6 linked regions of the Homo sapiens genome follow. The protein of the gene in region 3 purifies or fractionates together with the protein of the main gene of each other region. This does not show direct contact. Each region holds a gene or a part of one and is shown on either strand. Other genes may lie near its edges.

Evidence for each region.
Region 1: the proteins of PLAC9 (region 3) and TENM3 purify together in Homo sapiens (affinity purification with mass spectrometry; one large-scale study listed by BioGRID and IntAct). This does not show direct contact.
Region 2: the proteins of PLAC9 (region 3) and MPZL1 purify together in Homo sapiens (affinity purification with mass spectrometry; one large-scale study listed by BioGRID and IntAct). This does not show direct contact.
Region 4: the proteins of PLAC9 (region 3) and GDPD1 purify together in Homo sapiens (affinity purification with mass spectrometry; one large-scale study listed by BioGRID and IntAct). This does not show direct contact.
Region 5: the proteins of PLAC9 (region 3) and ABHD12 purify together in Homo sapiens (affinity purification with mass spectrometry; one large-scale study listed by BioGRID and IntAct). This does not show direct contact.
Region 6: the proteins of PLAC9 (region 3) and EMILIN2 purify together in Homo sapiens (affinity purification with mass spectrometry; one large-scale study listed by BioGRID and IntAct). This does not show direct contact.

The regions. Positions count from the first base shown.
Region 1 is NC_000004.12:182,246,402-182,249,901, reverse strand, and holds part of TENM3 (teneurin-3), read right to left. Parts: intron 1-3,500.
Region 2 is NC_000001.11:167,790,201-167,792,419, reverse strand, and holds the end of MPZL1 (myelin protein zero-like protein 1 isoform a precursor), read right to left. Parts: 3' UTR 501-2,219; downstream 1-500. UniProt on the Homo sapiens protein: Cell surface receptor, which is involved in signal transduction processes. Recruits PTPN11/SHP-2 to the cell membrane and is a putative substrate of PTPN11/SHP-2.
Region 3 is NC_000010.11:80,131,346-80,135,529, reverse strand, and holds the start of PLAC9 (placenta-specific protein 9 isoform 1 precursor), read right to left. Parts: upstream 2,801-4,184; 5' UTR 2,768-2,800; coding exon 2,704-2,767; intron 1-2,703.
Region 4 is NC_000017.11:59,269,011-59,272,510, forward strand, and holds part of GDPD1 (lysophospholipase D GDPD1), read left to right. Parts: intron 1-1,925; coding exon 1,926-1,985; intron 1,986-3,500. UniProt on the Homo sapiens protein: Hydrolyzes lysoglycerophospholipids to produce lysophosphatidic acid (LPA) and the corresponding amines. Shows a preference for 1-O-alkyl-sn-glycero-3-phosphocholine (lyso-PAF), lysophosphatidylethanolamine (lyso-PE) and lysophosphatidylcholine (lyso-PC).
Region 5 is NC_000020.11:25,380,836-25,384,335, reverse strand, and holds part of ABHD12 (lysophosphatidylserine lipase ABHD12), read left to right. Parts: intron 1-3,500.
Region 6 is NC_000018.10:2,892,006-2,895,505, forward strand, and holds part of EMILIN2 (EMILIN-2 precursor), read left to right. Parts: coding exon 1-481; intron 482-3,500. UniProt on the Homo sapiens protein: May be responsible for anchoring smooth muscle cells to elastic fibers, and may be involved not only in the formation of the elastic fiber, but also in the processes that regulate vessel assembly. Has cell adhesive capacity.

The sequences.
Region 1 (3,500 bases), on a different chromosome or scaffold from region 3:
AGTCTCAGCTACTCGGGAGGCTGGGTGGAGGATCCCTTGAGCTCAGGCGTGTGAGGCTACAATCAGCTATGACTGAACCACTGCACTCCAGCCTGGGTGACACAGCAAAACCTAGTCTCTAAAAAAACTAAATAAATAAAAAATAAAAACCACTAACTAAGAATATTTATATAAAAACATCACAATTGCTCAAAATATTTGCAACCCCTCTCTATCAGACCCATCCTCAGAGGTCCCCAACCCCCACCACCACCACTTAGTGCCCTCACTGTGGGGGGACGTACATTTCCCACCCCATTCGTTGTATGATTTGCTTTGGCCAAGAAGATGTGAGAGGAAGCGGTTCAGTCTACGATGGAGCAGAAGATTTTAAGAGCCAGTGCATGGTCCACCATTGTGTTTTCCTGCTGTGAGAGCAGAATATGTGAGATAATAGTTTCTCCTTCTAGTACGAAAACAGCATGGAGTACAGCCACTATCAACTCATATAACTCACAAAATATGTAAAAAAATAGACCTTTGTTGTAAGTCATAGATTTGGGGATTATTTGTTATCACAGCTTAACTCAGCAAAAGCTTACTAATCATTTTAACAATGTCATTGCTTGGAGGTAGGCAGCTGCAGTGCATTCAGAAAAGCACTGGCCCTGAAATCGGAAAACCTAAATTCCACTTCCATCTGGCTGCGCGACCCAGGTAACTCATGACCACATGACTCCCATTTCCACAGCTGGTGGTGTGGGTGATAGCATGTCCTCTACCACTTATTAGCTATGCAGCTCTGGCCAAGGAATTTAATCTGTCTGTGTCTTAATTTCTTCATCTGCAAAATCGGAATAAAACTATACACCTCACAGGGTTGTTCTGAAAATTCACAAGTTAAAACATATAAAGTTTGTAGAGGAGGGTCTGGCACATAGTAAACACTCAATACATGTTTATTATGTTATTGTCCTATTGCTATTACTATTGCACCTTTTTCATAGGTTTTAGAGGCCTAAAGGTGTTTGGGGAAGTGCTCTGTAAACTATAAAGTGCTCTGTAGATATATATGGTTATAAAGAACTTTCCACATCTCATTTGCAACCCTTTGGTAGTTATGAGGAACTCGGTAACAGCAGGGTTTTTGTCAGGTTTACTGTGGTATCCCAGGCCTTCAAATATGAGCTGGCACGTAGTAGGCATGTAATTATTTGTTGAATGAATGAAGGAAAATCGTGGTCTCCTTTGTAATCCACTCAATGCAGATGCTATTTTAAAATTACATTGTTACTGACTGAATCTCCGCCAGTTCCATAAATCAAAGCTTCATATACGCAAGCTTATTTCAGGTACTGAGTATATTTAACCATCTACTTAAATTACCCAACTTACTAGATCTATGTTAAACAAAAATACCACATGTCATCACTTTTCAGCAGAGATCAGAATAATTGGTACTACACATTAGAAGAATCACCTCAAATTAAAGAATGTACAATAATGCCTTTGATCACTGTACAATAGAGTACATGTCAACATTTTTTATACTCTGAATGATGAAAATGGTCTAAGAATTTCCATTTTTTTTCTTTGACAATAAGGCTAAGACTATTGATATACTTTTTTAGTGACACTTTATTTTTATTTAAAATTTTTTTTATTATACTGTAAGTTCTGGGATGTATGTGCAGAACGTGCAGGTTTGTTACACAGGTATGCGTGTGCCGTGGTGGTTTGCTGCACCCAGGCACTTTATATTTTAAAAGCAAATTTTAACTGAAATATAGTGAATAAAATAATGAAATGTATTTCATATATGCTTGCTTAAAAGCCTAAAGGCAATTATAAGTGATGTATTTCAGATCAACTTTCAAAACTGCATATTTGAAGTCCAAATTATCTGAAAATCCCCCATTAAATAAAGTTAAATAATATTTTCTATGTCACTGACAAACAGCAATGGCACTATTGTACTTCATGGCTTAGGAAACACAGAAGAGTTTGCGTGGGGAGCTTTGCAGGGAAAGGGTGAGGGTGCATTTGCTAGAGTTTGGGAAGTTATTTTTAAGACTTCTCACCAATGTTCACAGTTCTTTATTTTTCCCAATAAAATTTTGTTAAGTATTGAAAATAATTCTGCTTTTACTCATATCACAGAATTATAAAATCCTAGAATTAGGTATAATCTGAGAGGTTGCCTGAGCCATCCTTGGTCCAGTTGCTACTGCGATTTACTTATTTGTCATTTCAGTAAACACTGACTGAGCATCCACCCGCAGGTACTTGCCAGAGATATAACATGGACAGAAAACAAAGTCACTGGCCTGAAAAATCTTAAAATCTAGTAAATTAAAGCTGTCCTTGCCTAACAACACTTTGTGACTAGAAACTAACAGCGCAGCTTTGTGAAGCTGCTCGTTCCATTTTTGGATGGATGAGGTCAAGGGTTAAAGTGCTTCCTTCTAAGGCGGGTGAGTTCTGCCTTAGCCATGGCCCCTTTCAATGGTCTGAGGGCCACTCTATGGAACCATCATCTGTGTAATGCTTCCAGTAGATCACATCTCAAATAATCAGACATTTATCATGGCTCTCTCTCCAGTCTTCTCTTCGTAAGACAACCAACCCCCAGTTCCGACTGCGCTCTTCATAGGGTTTTTCTTCCAAACTCCTCACCATTCTGGTATCCACCTCTATATGTCAATTTCTTGCTGCAGCACCTCAGGACTGATCAGCACACAGAGAAACACATTGCCTTCCCTTTCCAAAATCACATCTAACTCGTTTCTCTTTGCTCATTAGATTCTAGCTCGACTCATATTTTTCTGTCCTTCAAAAACACCATTTCTGGTGTTCTTCGCATCTTTACATTTGCCCATCTCTGCGTCCTCCCACAGCTGCCCACACGGCTGGTTCCGTCTCATCCTGAGAGCTTCGATGTGGGCATCGCCTCCGCAGAGAGGCATCCCTCGTGATCCACCTCAATCAACTTCCCCTCCACTCCCAGTCACTACCTCATCTCTCGTTTTAGTCTCAGTTTAACAGCGATGATTATCGGAACTTATCTTCTTTGTTTAGTTATTTACTGGCGGCTTCCTCCCTAGAAAGTGAGTTCATCCCTGCACTGCTGTCGTCTGCAATAATGCAAGGCAAAGCGAAGGACGAGAGGGAGGGAACGCCCCCGCCCTGGAACCTACATGGCATGATTCATATCTCTCTATTTCTTATGAATACAGTCAAGACGGCACAAGCTTTTCTGGCAGACATAGCCCATTTGTTTAAGGTCAATAAAACCGTGTCTTTGTCACATACGGACGAGACACATTCTTACGTGATGGGATCGTGCTGCAGAATTTTAGAAGGAGGGCTGGTTTGCTGGATTCAAACTACTACTCCGGCTCTATTTTTAGTCTCTTATCCAACACCACCTCCTTCCTGTCAACAATGGCTTTGATACCCACACCATCTATATCCTAGAAAAGGAAGACATTTCTACCTCCTGTGCTCTTTCAGAGCGGGGC
Region 2 (2,219 bases), on a different chromosome or scaffold from region 3:
AGGATGAAGTCAGTGGTTCCCCAGTCCAGTTAGCACAGGAACTACCCAGAGGGGTCAGAAGGGAGCCAACTGGGGTGAGAGAGTATCTGAGTTTCCTCTAAACACTGCTCAACTCAGCTCCCTCAGGGGTGGAAGCTGCTCTCATAAATAAAAAGTCCATCTTTGGTTGGCAAGGCCCCTATGTAGCTTGGAAACCAGAGCCCCAGCAGGTGGATGCCCTCCGACACTTAGTGCTGACTTGGAAGGAATTGCAGAGATGACAAAAATGTGATTCCATCACTCACTGCTGCCCTTGTGTGGTGAAGGAAGCATCCCTTTTCTTTTTGTCACATCACGCAAGATGGATGCTGTTCACATGTGAGAATTACTCCCAGGGGAGTTCCTGCCAGCTGTAACTCATCTTCTCCCACTCAAGAACGCATTAGGTTTTGCAAGCCCAAAGTTATGCAAGGCAGGGGCTCATTGTGAATCCATGGTAATTTATAAAATTACTAAGTCACTGCGAAGCCTCAATGTTTTATTAGTAACACATTATTTGTAACATAGTTCTCAACAAATTAAGTCACCACATTGTCTTCCAGACTGAGGTTAAAGCTCTCAGACATCTGTGCCTACCACCTAGACTACACTACCCTCTCAAGTTCCTAAGGGACTCTCTAACCAGCTCCTAAGGGACTGGGAGAAAACTGCAACTGCATTTCAGCACATTTATTTGAGTAAGGAAGCAGTTTGGTACTTCCTTTTGGTGTGAGAGGCCACAGGGCATAGTGGTTAGGAACAAGGCTGTGGATCAAACAGCGGCCCCAGGCCCAGCCCCTCTTCTCTGTTCCTTTATTAGCTAAGTGGCCCTGGGTAAGCCATATAATCTTTCAAACAATGGGATTAAGATTAGTACAATTACTGTTAACTCACAGAAATAATAGAGAAAGAAATGCAAAGTGCCTGGCTCACACCAAGTATTTGGTAACTACTAGTTACTTCCATTCATGTCACCTGTCACCTCCACCCTGTGGCAAGCTCCTTGAGGAGCTTTGTCTTGTTTTGTTTCCTTATGCTTAGCACAGTGCTTGGCACAGGATTGTTCTCAGTGTAGGTTGCTGAATGGATGAATGCTTCCACCTACTCATCCATCCACGTAACATGTATTGAGCAGCTAAGTGCCAGGTGCTGTTCCCTTTACTGCAGACGGAGCAGTGAACAAAACAGCAAGGTTCTGGTCTCTTGTTAACTATGTTCTAATGCGGGAGAACAGACAAGTGTGTACTGGGAAAGAGGGAGAGAAATAGAGTAACTAGAGCAGAACTGAGGGGGCCAGGAAGGCTGAGGCGGTGGGGTGGGGGGCTTGCTCTTTTATATATCACAGAAGGTCTCCCTGAGGAGGTAACATTTGAGCAGAGGCTTAAAGGAAGTCAGAGAGCAAACCACAGGAATATTGGCAGAAGGCATGCTTCAGGCCCAGGGAACAGCATGTGCAAAGGCCCAGAAGCAGGCACACGGACGGCATTTTTGAAGAAAAGAAGGCAGGTGTAGCTGGAATGATATGAGTGAAAGGCATATCTCTTTTTCTATTCTGGTCAAAATGAGCACACAACACAATTCAGAAATTGAAAAAGATGTATTAAAATATTCACAAAAATACAACTGAAGATCAAAAAATAATAATGAGCTTGATGGTTTTTCCCTAGCTGATATATTTCCATTGAAAAACTAGAGATAGTTTGAAATTTCAATCTCTAAGTAATGCCTTTTGAGTGCTCCCATACAGAATTAGCGCATAATTTTAAGACGACCCTGTTTGCCAGGACGAAGACATGGAGAGGGCAGATCTGCCCTTTAGGCAACCTTAGTTCGTTATCTGCAACCAGGAAAGGAGTGCTGAGGCACAGGGAAAAGGGGAGCCAAAAGGGCTGCAGGGGTGGGTGTGCAGGGCTTGGGAAGAGGTCCTGCCCTGAGAGGCTCATCTCAGTGTGAGCAGCTTCCTTCAGGGAAACCTGTCCTGGCAGAGCACCATGCTGGCAGCTGCCCTTGCCTGGGGGGAAGGTTGGTGAGAACTGGTGAGGATTCTCTGCCAGAATGCCAGGGCACTGACAGAGTTTGAGGTGTCTGGTTGGGCAGGAGGCCAAGAAGTCGGGCTGGGGAAGGGAGTGGTAAGGGAGGAACAGGCCTCCAGGTGTCATTCGAGTGAGTGGCCCCCACAGCACCAGCTTCACCAACACATG
Region 3 (4,184 bases):
CCCCCGCAGCCCCCGTCTCTACTAAAAAATGCAAAAATTAGCTGGGTGTGGTGGTGCACACCTGTAATCCCAGCTACTTGGGAGACTGAGGCACGAGAATTGCTTGAACCCAGGAGGCAGAGGTTGTGATGAGCTGAGATCGCACCACTGCACTCCAGCCTGGATGACAAAACAAGACTCTGTCTCAAAAAAAAAAAAAAAAAAAAAAGGCCGGGCGCAGTGGCTCACACCTGTAATCCCAGCACTTTGGGAGGCCGAGGCGGGCAAATCACAAGGTCAGGAGATCGAGACCATCCTGGCTAACACAGTGAAACCTCATGTCTACTAAAAATACAAAAAAAATTTAGCCGGGCATGGTTGCAGCCGTCCGTAGTCCCAGCTGCTTGGGAGGCTGAGGCAGGAGAATGGTGTGAACCCGGGAGGCGGAGCTTGCAGTGAGCGGAGATCGCACCACTGCACTCCAGCCTGGGAGACAGAGCGAGACTCCATCTCAAATAAATAAATAAATAAATAAACAAACAAACAAACCAAGGTTGGAAGTTGGACGTGCTAGAGATAGCTCTCAATTTATAGAAAATATAAGGGGTGGAGGTATTTAAATGACATAAAAGGGATGCAATTAGCAAAATCTAAATGTGGAAAACTTTACAGGACAAACTTAGTTTCTTCAACAAAAACAAAAAATTAAGTAAAAAAAGGGGAGAGAAGACTTACATATTTAAAGAGATCTAACAGACATATTGACCAAATGCAGTGTATGTAACCTTATTTGGATCAAACAAATGAATTGCAAAAAGATATGACACAATCAATCAAGGACATTTGAACAGTGATTGAATATTTAATGATATTCAATCACACACAGTTTTTGGAGTATGATCATAGCATTGCAGTTATGTTTATTAAGAGTGCTTATCTCTTAGAGGTACACAAAGAAATATTTATAGATGAAAATACATGATGCCAGGCCAGGCATTGTGGCTCACACCTGTAATCCCAGCACTTTGGGAGGCCAAGGCAGGTGGATCACTTGAGCCCAGGAGTTCGAGACCAGCCTGGCCAACATGGTGAAACCCTATCTCTACTAAAAATACCAAAATTAGTCAGGTGTGGTGGTGCGTGCCTGTAGTCCCAGCTACTCAGGAGGCTGAGGCAGGAGAATCAGTTGAACCCGGGAGACGGAGGTTGCAGTGAGCTGAGATTGTGCCACTGCATTCTAGCATGGGTGACAGAATGAAATCCTGTCTCAAAAAAAAAAAAAAAAGAAAGAAAGAAAGAAAGAAAATATACAATGCCTGGATTTCCTTTAAAATAATCCAGGGAGGGGAGAGAGGGTGGAGGCTATAGATGAGATAAAACTGCCCATGAACTGATACTTCTTGAAGCAGCGTTGATAAGTATATTACATGATTCTTTCACATACTATTACTTTGTATTTTTTTGTATCCAAAAGTTTTCATAATCAAAAGTTAAGATATATCATCTAAAATCTGAAAGATTATGCACAAAAATATATGAAATCAGTGTGAAATTACACTAATACATGAATACTTTCCTCCTTTCCTTCTTCTTTTTTTTTTTTTTTTGAAACTGAGTCTTGCTCTGTCACCCAGGCTGGATTGCGGTGGCTTGATCTCGGCTCACTGCAACCTCCGCCTCCCAGGTTCAAGTGATTCTCCTGCCTCAGCCTGCCGAGTAGCTGGGACTACAGGCATGTGCCACCACGCCCGATTAATTTTTTGTATTTTTAATAGAGACAGCATTTCACCATGTTAGCGAGGCTGGTCTTGATCTCCTGAGCTTGTGATCCGCCCGCCTGAGGGGTAGGTGAGGGGAAGAAAGCGGACAGTGAAAAGCAAGGAACCCAGCTAATGGAGTACCCAGACAGCCTCTCTCCTCCGCACAGCTCTCCACCTCCACCCAGTCCCCCATCTCCACCCAACATAGCTCAGTTTCCCAGAGAAGCTCCCTGGAAACCGGGAGGCTGACTTCTTCACTGACTGCAGATCCACCTGAGGCCACCTGGCAGGTGAATCGGTGGCCTTTCTCCTGGGCCCGACTGCCTGGTTCCTTAAGGCTGTGCTGGGCTAGCCTGGGTCACTCATCCTTTGGAGTGTGGCTTCTTATGCAATGTCCTATAAAGCCAGGCCTGAGCCTCCACAGGCCCTCTGAGATGGAGCTGGCCTCCGGGGCTGCCCCACCCAGCAGCTGTGACCTCCCACTCCAGATCCTGGCTCCTTCTCTCTTGCCAGCTCTACTCCGGGCATCGAGCTTCCCTCTCTCTCCTTTTTGGTCTCTCTCAAATCTTTCTCTTTTCTTCAATATCCTCTCTCCCTCCACCCCTTGCCATTTTAATCACTTTTTCTCTTTCCTTCTTCTCTTTTGTCTCTCAAACTCCTTTTTCTTTCTATCTTAGTTCATATCTGTTCAGGGGAAGCCTCTTTCTGTCTCAGCCTCTCCTTTTTCCTTTTCACTGTGTATTCTTCCCTATCTCCTTTATCTCTCCGTTGCTCTACTTCTCTGCCTTTTTCTGAGTCTGTTTCCTCTCAATCTTTCTCTCCATCCCTCCCTCCCTGCATCTGCCTCTCTGTCCATCTCGCTGCTGTGTCCAGCTCTCTCTCCGTCTCTCTCGCTCATTCCTTCCTCGCCATCTGCGGGTCTCCCCGGCTCCAGGTCCCCTGCCGCGCCCTGCGCCCCACTCACCGGCCAAAGAGCCCGCGGCGCGGAGCAGGGCCAGTCCGGTCAGCGCGCAGAGCAGGGGCCGCATGGTGCCGGCCTGGCCGAGCGCAGCGCCGCGTCTGCCCGCAGCCGCCCTTCCCGGATCGCACCCGGCCGGCCCGAGAGGAAATGCACTCAGTTCGAGCCAAAATTCCTGGGCGGCTCCGGACTTTCTGGCTCGAGAGAACCCGCCCCCTCCAGAGGCCCCTCGGCACCCCGTGGGCAGCGCGGAGCCCAGAGACCCCGGGAGCTGAGGCACCGACGTGCCACCTGGGCGCCTCCCGAGGAAGGGGCCGCCCCCCGAGTCCCCGCACCTCCTGGGAGCCCGGGAGGGAAGGCGGGGCGGGGGGCATTGGGTGAGGTCTTGGGCTCAAGGCGACCGAGCCTGGGGTCAGGGGTTTGTTACGAGCCAGTTTCACAGGCGGGCAGACTAAGACTCGGAGGGAAGTGTCTTCCTCGGCATCACTCTCAGCCATAGCACAGGATCTGAACCCCTGTCTCCTGGGAGTTTGGCAGCTTTTCTCTGTCTACCTACGAACAAGAAATTAATTCTAATTACATGGAACAGTGTCTGCCCCTAAGAGGGAGACCCAGAAACTCACTGCTCTGGTAAGGGAGTGATAGAAATATGAAAAGGTAATTTTAAAAAGAAAAGGTAAAATCGTAACTCTCGCAAAGATATGAAATTAGCATATACTAAAGATTTTATTCAATTCATTATTAATGAGGGGATAAGTAAGATGGTACAAGCAGCCCAAAGTTTAGAGCACAGTAGTGGAAACTTCCCCTATGGGACATGCCCATCCAACAAGTGCAACAACAAATTAAGTTTTAGTAAAAACACAAAGCAAAAAAGCTGTAGCTCTAACTTCTCTGCTGCAGAGCCCTGAGTGAGTGTCTCGTCTGGCTGTAAGTGGAACACATTCATCACCAAGCCTGGGAGAATGCCTTTGTCCATCAAGGGTCCCCGTTGGGATTACCTGGAGCTCTTGCAGATCAAGGCTGCCTCTCTGCCTTCTGTGTTCCTGGCTGTGGCTATGCAATTGTCCAAAACAGTTACCACGCTAACCAGTGATCCAGTTCTCACTCCCTCCTCCAGAGCAAGATAGTAGCCTCAGACGGAGAAATTCTGGTTCTGAGCCCGAGAATCTGAGACAGACTCAGATCTAAATCTTTTAAAAGCCTTCAAGGAGATTATGATGCCCACATGAGCTGGCTCAGAAGAAGAATTTATTTCAGGAATGCCAAAAATTTCTCACGCTTGGTGGTAGGACATTCCTTGATAGTTTCGCCAGGTGGGAAAAAAAGTTGTCAAAGAACTGCCCAACTCATAAGGATTCTTGTAGCTTAGAGCCAGTGGGCTACCTTATATTTTGAATTTAAGACTAAGAAAACACACACACACACAAAAACATATACAATACATTATTGTTGCGGTAGAGCATAAAGTAATTAAGTATACAGAG
Region 4 (3,500 bases), on a different chromosome or scaffold from region 3:
ACAATTGGCCGGGCGTGGTGGCTCATGCCTGTAATCCCAGCACTGTGGGAGGCTGAGGCGGGTGGATCACAAAGTCAGGAGTTCAACACCAGCCTAGCCAACATGGTGAAACCCCGTCTCTACTAAAAATACAAAAATTAGCCGGGCACAGTGGCAGACACCTGTAATCTCAGTTACTCGGGAGGCTGAGGCAAGAGAGTCGCTTGAACCCCAGAGGTGGAGGTTGCAGTGAGTCGAGATGGCTGCACTCTAGCCTGGGCGACAGAGCAAGACTCTGTCTCAAAAAAGAAAAGAAAAGAAAAACAATTTAGTCAGTACTCTTGTGCTCAACTTCTATTTCATGCCTGTTTTCCAATTTCAGTATCTTAGTGATAAACATGTTTATTTTATTTATTCCTAAATTATATTTATGAACATCTTTGTAGCTGTTTCTCAGACAAAACAATAGAAAACGCTTCTTGTCTACCCCCCCCCCCAAAAAACACCCTATTTTATTTGCTAGATTAAAATGATCCCTAAACATTTATTCCTGGCTGGGCCAGGGGCTCCTGCCTGTAATCTCAGCACTTTGGGAGGCAGAGGCAGGCGGATCACCTGAGGTCGGGAGTTCCATACCAGCCTGGCCAACATGGTGAAACTCCCATCTCTACTAAAAATACAAAATTAGCTGGGCATGGTGGCGCACATCTGTAATCCCAGCTACTCAGGAGGCTGAGGCAGGAGAATCGCTTGAACCCAGAAGGTGGGGGTTGCAGTGAGCCGAGATAGCGCCATTGCACTCCAGCCTGGGTGACAGAGCAAGACTCTGCCAATAAATAAATAAATAAAACATTTATTCCTAAAGTACTTAGCTTTCCTCTGGCCTGGAGTGGACTGTTTGCTCTATATTTATCTTCATATGTTCCTTTTAGAAGCAAATATTGTTGAAATACAGACATAAGAACAAACTCCACAGAATTAATATTTTCTCTAAAAAGTGATTATGGATTAAGACACAAGCAGGATATATTTTGTGTGTTTTAATACTTCTATAGAAGACAATGGATATTTTCTAAGACAATATAGTGATTGTTTAATGAGGTAATCAGTATTTGAGCTACTAAATCCCTAATATTCCTGAAATTGCAACCAGGACTTTCCACTGGGGCCAGAGTTAGGGAAAAAAGGACTTGTACTTTATTTTGTACTTTTTTTTTTTTTTGAGACAGAGTTTTACTTTGTCACCCAGGCTGGAGTGCAGTGGCGCAGTCTTGGCTCACTGCAACCTCTGCCTCCTGGGTTCAAGCAGTTCTCCTGTCTCCGGCTCCTGAGTAGCTGTGATTACAGGTGTGCGCCACCATGCCCGGCTAATTTTTATGTTTTTAGTAGAGACGGGGGGGGGTTTCACTATGTTGGCCAGGCTGGTCTGGAACTTCTGAACTCAGGTGATGCACCAGCCTCAGCCTCCCAAAGTGCTGGGATTACAGACATGAGCCACCATGCCTGGCCTACAGATATTTTAAAGGAAAGGAAAACACGTGGTAAACTGCTCACTTTGATCTATAATACAGTTCCGTTGTATGTTTAAATTTGCCACATACTAAATTGTAGGAGACAAAGCAGGAGAAAGATTTCACCAAAAAAGAAACGAGATATGAGCCTAGGGCACCAGGGTCTCTGGAAAGACAATATTTATTTATTTATGTATGCATTTATTTATTTATTTATTTATTTATTACTTTTGAATAGGGATGGCAAAAAGTTAGCTTGAGACCAGTGCAAACAGAACCCAACTGGCCTTTATTTTATTTTTGTCCTTTTTACAAATATTTTTTGAGAATATACAAAGTACAAGGCACTGTTTTCATTTTTGAATTTGTTTCATTTTATCACACTGATATATTTCTGTGTTTCTAATTTGTAATTCAAACTTTATTTTACCCTAGGCTAAAAGAACCACACACCATGTCCAGAAGTCAAAAGTTTCTCATCTGGCTTTCTGATCTGTAAGAATTTTAATTTCTTAATATGCAAGTTATTGCTTCAGCTATATTTATTAAATACTACCCTTAAAATGTTGTGCAAGCTTTCCACATGTAATTTGTAACAAGGACAAATTGAGCACCTGCTATGTAAAATGTGTATGAATCATTTAGAAATATCTTAATTACTAATCACAAAATCTTAGGAAGAATCTTGAGAGATAATGTCCTCCAACTTCATGAGAAAACTGAGCCCCCATATACCCAGTTAAATTATTTACTTGGGGTTATCTAGCTAGTTAGTAGCAGAACTAGGTTAAATAACCATTCCCTTTAGCTTACTTGCTGGTGAAAAGAAGTGTAGCAACACAGTATATATAAAAGTGTATGTTGCCTACAGCACATTTCTCAGAAAAATTTGCTCTGCACCAAGACTTAACAGCAGAAAGGAAATCCCACCTATAGAGTGGATATCAACTTTAAAGTAAATGCCTTAATTTAGACATGATGAGTTTAATTTTAGTAAAAATCACTAAATAATTGTACTATATTTTGCTTTAAGATGGAACCTTGAATGCTTAAATATTTTAATAGTCCCAAATCACAACTTTTTATTATTTAACGCCTTTTCTTCTTATTTTATTTTATTTTATTTTATTTTATTTTATTTATTTATTTATTCATTTTTTGAGATGGAGTCTTTCTCTGTCGCCCAGGCTGGAGTGCAGTGGTGTGATCTCGGCTCACCGCTTCCTGGGTTCAAGTGATTCTTCTGCCTCAGCCTCCCGAGTAGCTGGAACTATAGGTGCCTCCCACCATGCCTGGTTAGTTTTTGTATTTTTTAGTAGAGATGAGGTTTCATCATGTTGGCCAGGCTGATCTCGAACTCCTGGCCTCATGTGATCTGCCCACCTCAGCCTCCCAAAGTGCTGGGATTACAGGTGTGAGCCACCGCGCCCAGCCTTAACGCCTTTTTCAAAGAGTCTTAAACAATTAGTTTTATCTTTTCTCTCTGTCAGTGTTTATTCTTTTTTGCTTTATTCTTGATTTAAGCTCTAGTTTTCAAGGATGCCTTTTTTTTGTACTCAAGTAAAACCAGGATGCATTTTTTTTCTTTTTTCAACCCTATTAACTGACAAGATGCATTGTTAATTGGTGTTAAAAGCACATGATTTCTAGTTTCTGTTATTTAATCATTCTAATAGACATAACAGAATAGAAATAATGTCTTTCCAGTGCAATGAATTCCTATCTTGCTCAAGAGGTTTGTATTTTGAAAGTTCACTTATCAGTGAGTTACTTGGAACAAAAAAATATTTTTTCCCTAGACATAGGATAGTGTAATTAATGGACATAATGCTTCTAACATCGCTTACAAAAGACTAATCCATTGTGTAATGAACTATGATGTTATAGAAATTGACCTGCATTTGTTGACTTATTTTAACTTGGAAAGTTAGGAACACACATTAATAGTAAGAAAGGAAAGCCAGCTCTTTCTCCTTCTTCAGCAGTGAAAATGAGGCAGCCTCTTTTCCA
Region 5 (3,500 bases), on a different chromosome or scaffold from region 3:
AACCCCAAACCAGTTTTTTTTGTTTTTAAATTCTGGGCCAAAAGATAATTTTTAAAGGTAAATATTTATCTCATTCATAGGTCAACTCTGTACTCCTTGAGACGAGGAACTAGATCAGTTTTGCTTTGCATGGTATCTGGTGTGAGGAGGTACTGGGCAAATGAGTGATTTTTTTTTTTCTTTTTTTTTTTTTTGAGACAGAGTCTCACTCTGTCACCCAGGCTGGAGTGCAGTGGCGTGATCTCGGCTCACTGCAACCTCTGCCTCCCAGATTCAAGCGATTCTCCTGCCTCAGCCTCCTGAGTAGCTGGGACTATGGGCGCCCGCCACCATGCCCGGCTAATTTTTTTTCTTTTTTTTCTTTTTTTTTTTTTTTTTTTTGAGAAAGAGTCTCCCTCTGTTGCCCAGGCTGGAGGGCAGTGGCGTGATCTCGGCTCACTGCAACCTCCGTGTGCCAGGTTCAAGTGATTCTCCCGCCTCAACCTCCCGAGTAGCTGGGATTACAGGTGCACGCCACCATACCTGGCTAATTTTTTGTATTTTTAGTAGGGACGAGGTTTCACCATGTTGGTCAGGCTGATCTTGAACTCCTGACCTCATGATCCGCCCACCTTGGCCTCCCAAAGTACTGGGATTACAGGGGTGAGCCACTGTGCCCGGCCTTAATTTTTATATTTTTAGTAGAGACGGGGTTTCACCATATTGGCCAGGCTGGTCTTGAACTCCTGACCTTGTGATCCGCCTGCCTCGGCTTCCCAAAGTGCTGGGATTACAGGCGTGAGCCACCGCGCCCAGCCCAAATGAGGGATTTTGTGGGCCTTTCATTAGCCCTGGAATTGTTGGGAATGTGCATTGAAGGCATGACTGGTCTAATTTGGACCCTGAGAAGGCAGTCATGAGATGTACACGGTCTGTGTGTTACCTAGTCTTTATCCTCCAACTCCCAACCGACAGGCCAGATCTGCTGGATTGACAGAGATCAGTGGGCTGCATGGGAGGTTTCATAGCCAGATCACCCTCATACGTAAATGCCAAAGAACATAGTCATCACACCTATTTCTTCCTTTACCCAAAGAAGATACTTTATCCAAGGTTGCTAATGGCTTCCCCCTAACCCAGAAGAGTGGGTGGCTGAGGTTAACATCTGTCTTCTTCAGTGTCAGCCTTCCCGAGGTTCAGTATCAACCTCACCCTCTAAGTGTCCCTGTATGGTATCTCTTCATCTTTTCTTTACAGATTAGGAAGATGGGAGCGAGTTCTGAGCTAGCTTTTGTGGTTAAAGTCTGCTTCATCCATCTCCTTTTTCCTTTTGCTCCACCCTCAGTACAGTCTGGGCCAGGACTGTGACAAGGCATGGGGCTGGCTTTGTTTATGGCGCCATAGCTGGCCCCCCCCCTCAACTGGTACTGGTTTTCCTCTTCCTAACTCAGTGTACCTTATCAATGCTGCACTCCAGCCAGGGACTGGCCACACTGGGACTTGGTGCTTTGCCACTGCCTTCTGCTTTATTAGGACTCTGCATCCTGTATCTCTGCTTGGTTCCTAGTTCCTTTCAGCCACAGTGACCCTTCCCAAGGGAGTGTCCGCCTTCTATGGTGACTTTGGCAGACAGGCCTGAACTGTGAGGGGTATCTTTGGGCAGGCTGAAAGCACCTGAGGCACTTTCATGGAGGAAGCCTTGGAGAGAGGCATGGAAGATGGGTCATCTTGTCAGGTTTGTGCTAACAGCGATGGAGACAGGACCTCATTTCAGACTCCCGCTGCTGCAACTTCTCCTCCTCTTCGTTCCCCTCCTTTCTCTCCTCTTCCATTAGAACACTTGTCCTTCCAGAGTGAAATCTGCAGGGAAAATGTTTATTGAAATATAACCTCAAAAGCTGACAGATGAAGTCAATGCTCTTCACCCAGAGATGACGCCACAGGACTTTGGTCTCAGTGTGCTTGTGCTTTGGCAGGGGCCCTTTCAGCATGAGAGTGGGTAAGCCATCTATCTCGTGCCACACCGAGAGCCAGCGTCTAGAGTGTCAGTCAGTGAACAGGGGCCAAGAGCCAGGATGCCGGAACCAAACTGTCCCATTACCAGCAAGACTTCTCATTTAGGCCTCAGCCCCTTTGTATTGTGATTTACTGCTTCAGAGGATAGCCTTCATAGAGACCCAGGTCTCAGGTGAGTTTTCAGATTCTCTGGCTTGGGTGAGTTGTGTAACACTCTGAGTTTGTTTCTTCATCTGTGATGTAGGGATAAGAGTGTCTTCCCTGTAGGATTGTGGTGAGGCCCAGGTGTGTGGAATGTTCCTGGCACATGGTGAGTGCTTGGTCAGTGACATCTTCTAGATGACTAGCCCCATGATGATTATAATATTAAGAGCTCAGGGTACTGGCCAGTGTGGTGGCTCATGCCTGTAATCCCAGCACTTTGGGAGGCCGAGGCAGGCAGATCACTTGAGTTCAGGAGTTCAGGACCAGCCTGGCCAACGTGGTGAAACACCATCTCTACTAAAAAGACAAAAATTAGCCAGGTGAGGTTGTGAGCACCTGTAATCCCAGGTGAGGGATTATCTCCTGTAATCCTGGGAGGCTGAGGCAGGAGAATCGCTTGAACCCAGGAGGTGGAGGCTGCAGTGAGCCGAGATTGCACCACTGCACTCCAGCTTGGGTGACAGAGCGAGACTTTGTCTCAAAAACAAAACAAGGAAAAAAAAAAAAAAAGAGGGTACTGAGAAAGATCTGTTAGCTCATGTCTAGAAGGATTTTCTTCTACCCTTTTCTGCCCCAAACAATTAAGAGTCTGGCTTCTCAGCCAGTCGTGCATATAGGGTCCATCCTGATCAGTTAATGTGTCTGTTGGTATTAGAGCATTTGTAGCAATACTATTTGCTTATTTAACACTTTTTTCCAGCCACTCATTTAACAGTTTGAGTACCTGTTACGCCCAGTAACACCTGTGAATGCTGAGGCCGTTGCAGTTCTCCTGGCCTTTACATTCTGGTAGGGGAGGCAGATAAAACATGAAGAAACACATGATGTCATGTGCTTAGGGCACTAAGGAGGAAAATGGTGCCAGTGAGGGAATAGCCGCAGATGAGGCCCTGTGGCTGTGTGTGCACAGTCTGGGTGTACAGGGGATGTTTCTGACAAGGAGACATGTGAATGGATGCCACTGGCTGCTAGAGAAATGGCATGGTGTGTGTCATCATGTCACTCTGACTGTGTGACAAGCACAGACTGCGGTGGGCAAGCAGGGAGACCGGCTAGGGGCTGCCAGGGTCATCCAGGCAAGAGATGACAGGGGCTCAGGCCGGGACAGCAGCTGTGGAGATAAGAAGAGGCATGTGATTCTGGATTCACAAACTACTTTCTGAGCAACAGGAAGAATGGAGTTGCCAGATACTGAGATGGGGACAGATGTGGAAAGAGCAAGTGCTTTGGGGCAGGAGAAGTAATGTTTGGTTTTGGACATATTGAGGTGCCTGTTAAACATCCAGGTGGATAGGGGATAG
Region 6 (3,500 bases), on a different chromosome or scaffold from region 3:
AAGGAAATGAGCAATTGTAGAGCAGGTGAAAACGCTGGCATGGGTAGGTTCACTAAGGTGGGTGAGCAAGAAAGGACAGTGGACACCCTGCCGTCCCCCCAGCACCCCGTGGCTCATTGCTGCAGTCAGCTGGAGGAGAGGTGGCAGAGGTTGCAGAGCCAGGTCATCTCGGAGCTGGATGCTTGTAAGGAATGCACGCAGGGGGTCCAGAGGGAGGTCTCCATGGTGGAGGGCAGGGTGTCTCATATGGAGAAAACTTGCAGCAAGCTGGACTCTATCTCAGGAAATCTTCAGAGGATCAAGGAGGGGCTCAACAAGCATGTCAGCAGCCTGTGGAACTGTGTCAGGCAGATGAACGGAACGCTCAGGTCGCATTCCAGAGACATTTCTGGCCTGAAGAATTCAGTCCAGCAGTTCTACAGCCACGTCTTCCAGATTTCTACTGATTTGCAAGATCTGGTCAAATTTCAGCCATCAGCAAGTAAGTTGAATATTACAATTCTATTTCTTGTATTTCTTTGCAGCACGCAACAACATTTTAAAAATAATTTTTTGTTCATTTTTGATATTGTTGAAACTTCATGAGGTAAAAATGTGACAGTATTATGCTAGATTTTGGACAGTTCACGGAATGAACTAAATGCCATCAGTCCTACCCAAATGTGGTTCATAGATTGGTGCCTGAATTATCTGGTGCTGAGTAGCAATAAGATAAATATATATTCTCAGTGTTAATATTTAGGAACTTCTAAAATAATTTGACAGACTGGTTGCAGTGGCTCATGCCTGTAATCCCAGCACTCTGGGAGTCAAAGGAGGGTGGATCACCTGAGGTCAGGCATTCGAGATCAACCTGGCCAACATGGCGAAAATCCGTCCCTACTAAAAATACAAAAATTAGCTGGGTGTGGTGGCACGCGCCTGTAGTCCCAGCTAGTCGGGAGGCTGAGGTGGGAGAATTGCTTGAACCTGGGAGGCAGAGGTTAAGGTGAGCCGAGATTGCATCACTGCACTCCAGCCTGGGCAACAGAGTGAGGCTCCATCTCAAATAAATAAACAAACAACATTGCAGTATTTAAGCACATGATCTACGTAATTTACAAAAATATCAGTTCACAACACATTGAAAATAAAAAAGGAAAACTGGTTCTTCCCACAGATGGATAGCCAAATATTATCTGTAGAATCAGGCTGGTGAGCTCAGAGTTGGGGTCAGATTTTTGGCATAACAGCTTGGGGCAGTGGGTGTTGTCCTCTCTTCTACCTAGGGAGTCTCCTACGTACCTCTCTTCAAGCATCACTTTTTATCTGTGTCGTTATCATCTTCAGGGCTTAGCTGATGGCAGATAGGATGCTGTCATATTTGTTTCCAGACACAGGACCGTGGATGAGAGCAGTTTAGGGACAGGAAGTATCTAAAGCTCCATAGTGCCTGCATCCAGGAAGCTCAGCAGTAGTGCTGAGAGCAATGCTGGCTACACCTTAGGCACTCAACAAATGTTTGTTGAATGAATGAATGTGAATGAATGAATAATATATGTAATAAGATTTTTTTGTTACTTGTGGGTGCTAAACGCAGCCTTCTCAAAGGACAGAGCTTCTCTTGTACCTGGGTTTGTACTCTGAGACAGCCTCCGACATAAGCTAGCCCTCTCTAGTCGGAGTCTGGGCGTGAAAGGAAGGAAGAGGGAGCTCGCGTTTTTGAACACTTTCTATGTACAGCACTGGCTTGGTCACTTCAGGGGGACTGAATCCTATCATGGCCTCACAGAAAGGCTGTTTTCCAACAGGGAAAATGTGCCCAAAGTCATGTGGCTGTTCAGTGGGGGAGCCAGGATGGAAACCAGGCCAGGCTGCGTCCAAGAATTGTTTTCTTGCAGTCCAGCCATGATGACTGTGTGTCTCCCAGAACTGAGTGCAGACTTACTTGGTCCATGGGGACTTGTTGAGGGGCCTGCTTTGTGCTAGAAGGAACCTATTCCTGACCTCCCCCTCCCTGTTTTCTTTTCTCCCATCCTTGCCTTTGGGACTTTTACCTCCCTGACCTGGTTCCGCTCTGGGTGACACAGGCCCTTGCACAAGGAACTGAGATTTCATGGCCTCTGTGAACCTTGGGATTTTATGATCAAGTCCCAGATGAGACATAAAACCCAAGGCAGCGTAGGCTAGAACGTGGGAAGCAGGCGAGCTCTGGCTTGGTCAGGGAGAGCCAGGGCCAGGTCCTGGCAGCTCAGGAGGGTGGAGAGGGTCCGAGGTAGGTGGGAAAATGCCCTGGATGTCCCCAGAGCACTGTGCTTATCTTGCAGATGACGAGTCACCTAGGCCCAGGAGGACCAGGAATCTGGCCGCCACCCGAGTGTCCAGCCCACTGCACCTCACTATTTATAACCCAGCCCTTCCCCCACTCCAGGGCCACTCAGCTCCTCTATCTCTGGAATGTTGAGTAGAGGTCACAAGACCATGTATGTGTTCATAGAATGATTGTCCCTTGTGGTGACAACGCTGTCTGGTCTGTGTCTTACGATAACAGGTTGAATCAGATATTTCCAGTTGATTTGGAACTCCCTGGTGGCGTGGGAAGCTGTGTTAACATTTTCGCATTTGTCTGTTGCAGTAGGAGTTGGGGGGTGAATTCTTTTAAAAGAGAATGTGCCATACAAAACATTATCCCTTTGGACTGAACTCATTGTGGTGAGTGTAGACTGCATGGAGTTTTGAGAATTTCATTGATTGGAAAAGAGCCAGAAATAAACAAGCAGAGCCTCCTCTGCCCTTGTCTAGCATCCAGGTCTAGGAGACCTGGAACCTGAGTATCAGAGGTGCATGGGAGAATCTGGAGCTAAGGTCACAATGAAAGTGACATGTCAATCAGTTAAAAGTCAACAGAATGTTTATTGAGTGCCTACGATGTGCAAGGCTCTTGGGGGACCTGGAGATAAGTAGGCATAATCCTTATTCTAAAGCATTTGCAATCACAGTGGGAAAGAGACTCACAGGTCTGCAGAGAGATGAATGAGATTGTTTGTGGCATAGCAGTTTATCCCTTTAGTTCATAAGCTCTTACTGAGCCCCTATTATGTGGTAGGTAATGGCTGTGTGGGGGAGTATGTGGATAAAAGTCTGATGGGGAAACAAGCAGACAGATGGTCACAGGAATGGGGTGTGGTGTGCATGAGCCACCTTGAGTGTTCAGAGAAGCACCCACAGTGGAAGTCAGGGAGGGATTCTCAGGAGAGAGCCCTGAGCTGAGCCCTCAGTGTAGGTATTTACCGAGCAGAGTACAGAGGCTGATGGGGTGAGGAATAAGGTGAGATGAGAGAAGCTTCCAGGAGGAGGTGTTACTGGATCTGATTGAGGGATGGGTGGGATTCAGAAAGCAGGAGGGGAGGACATTGTGGATTAGCTATTTATTGCTTTATAACAACCCATTCCAAATCTTGCTGGCTTAAAACAACAAAGATGTATTAGTTTCCATTATTCTGTAGGTCAGGAACCCCGGC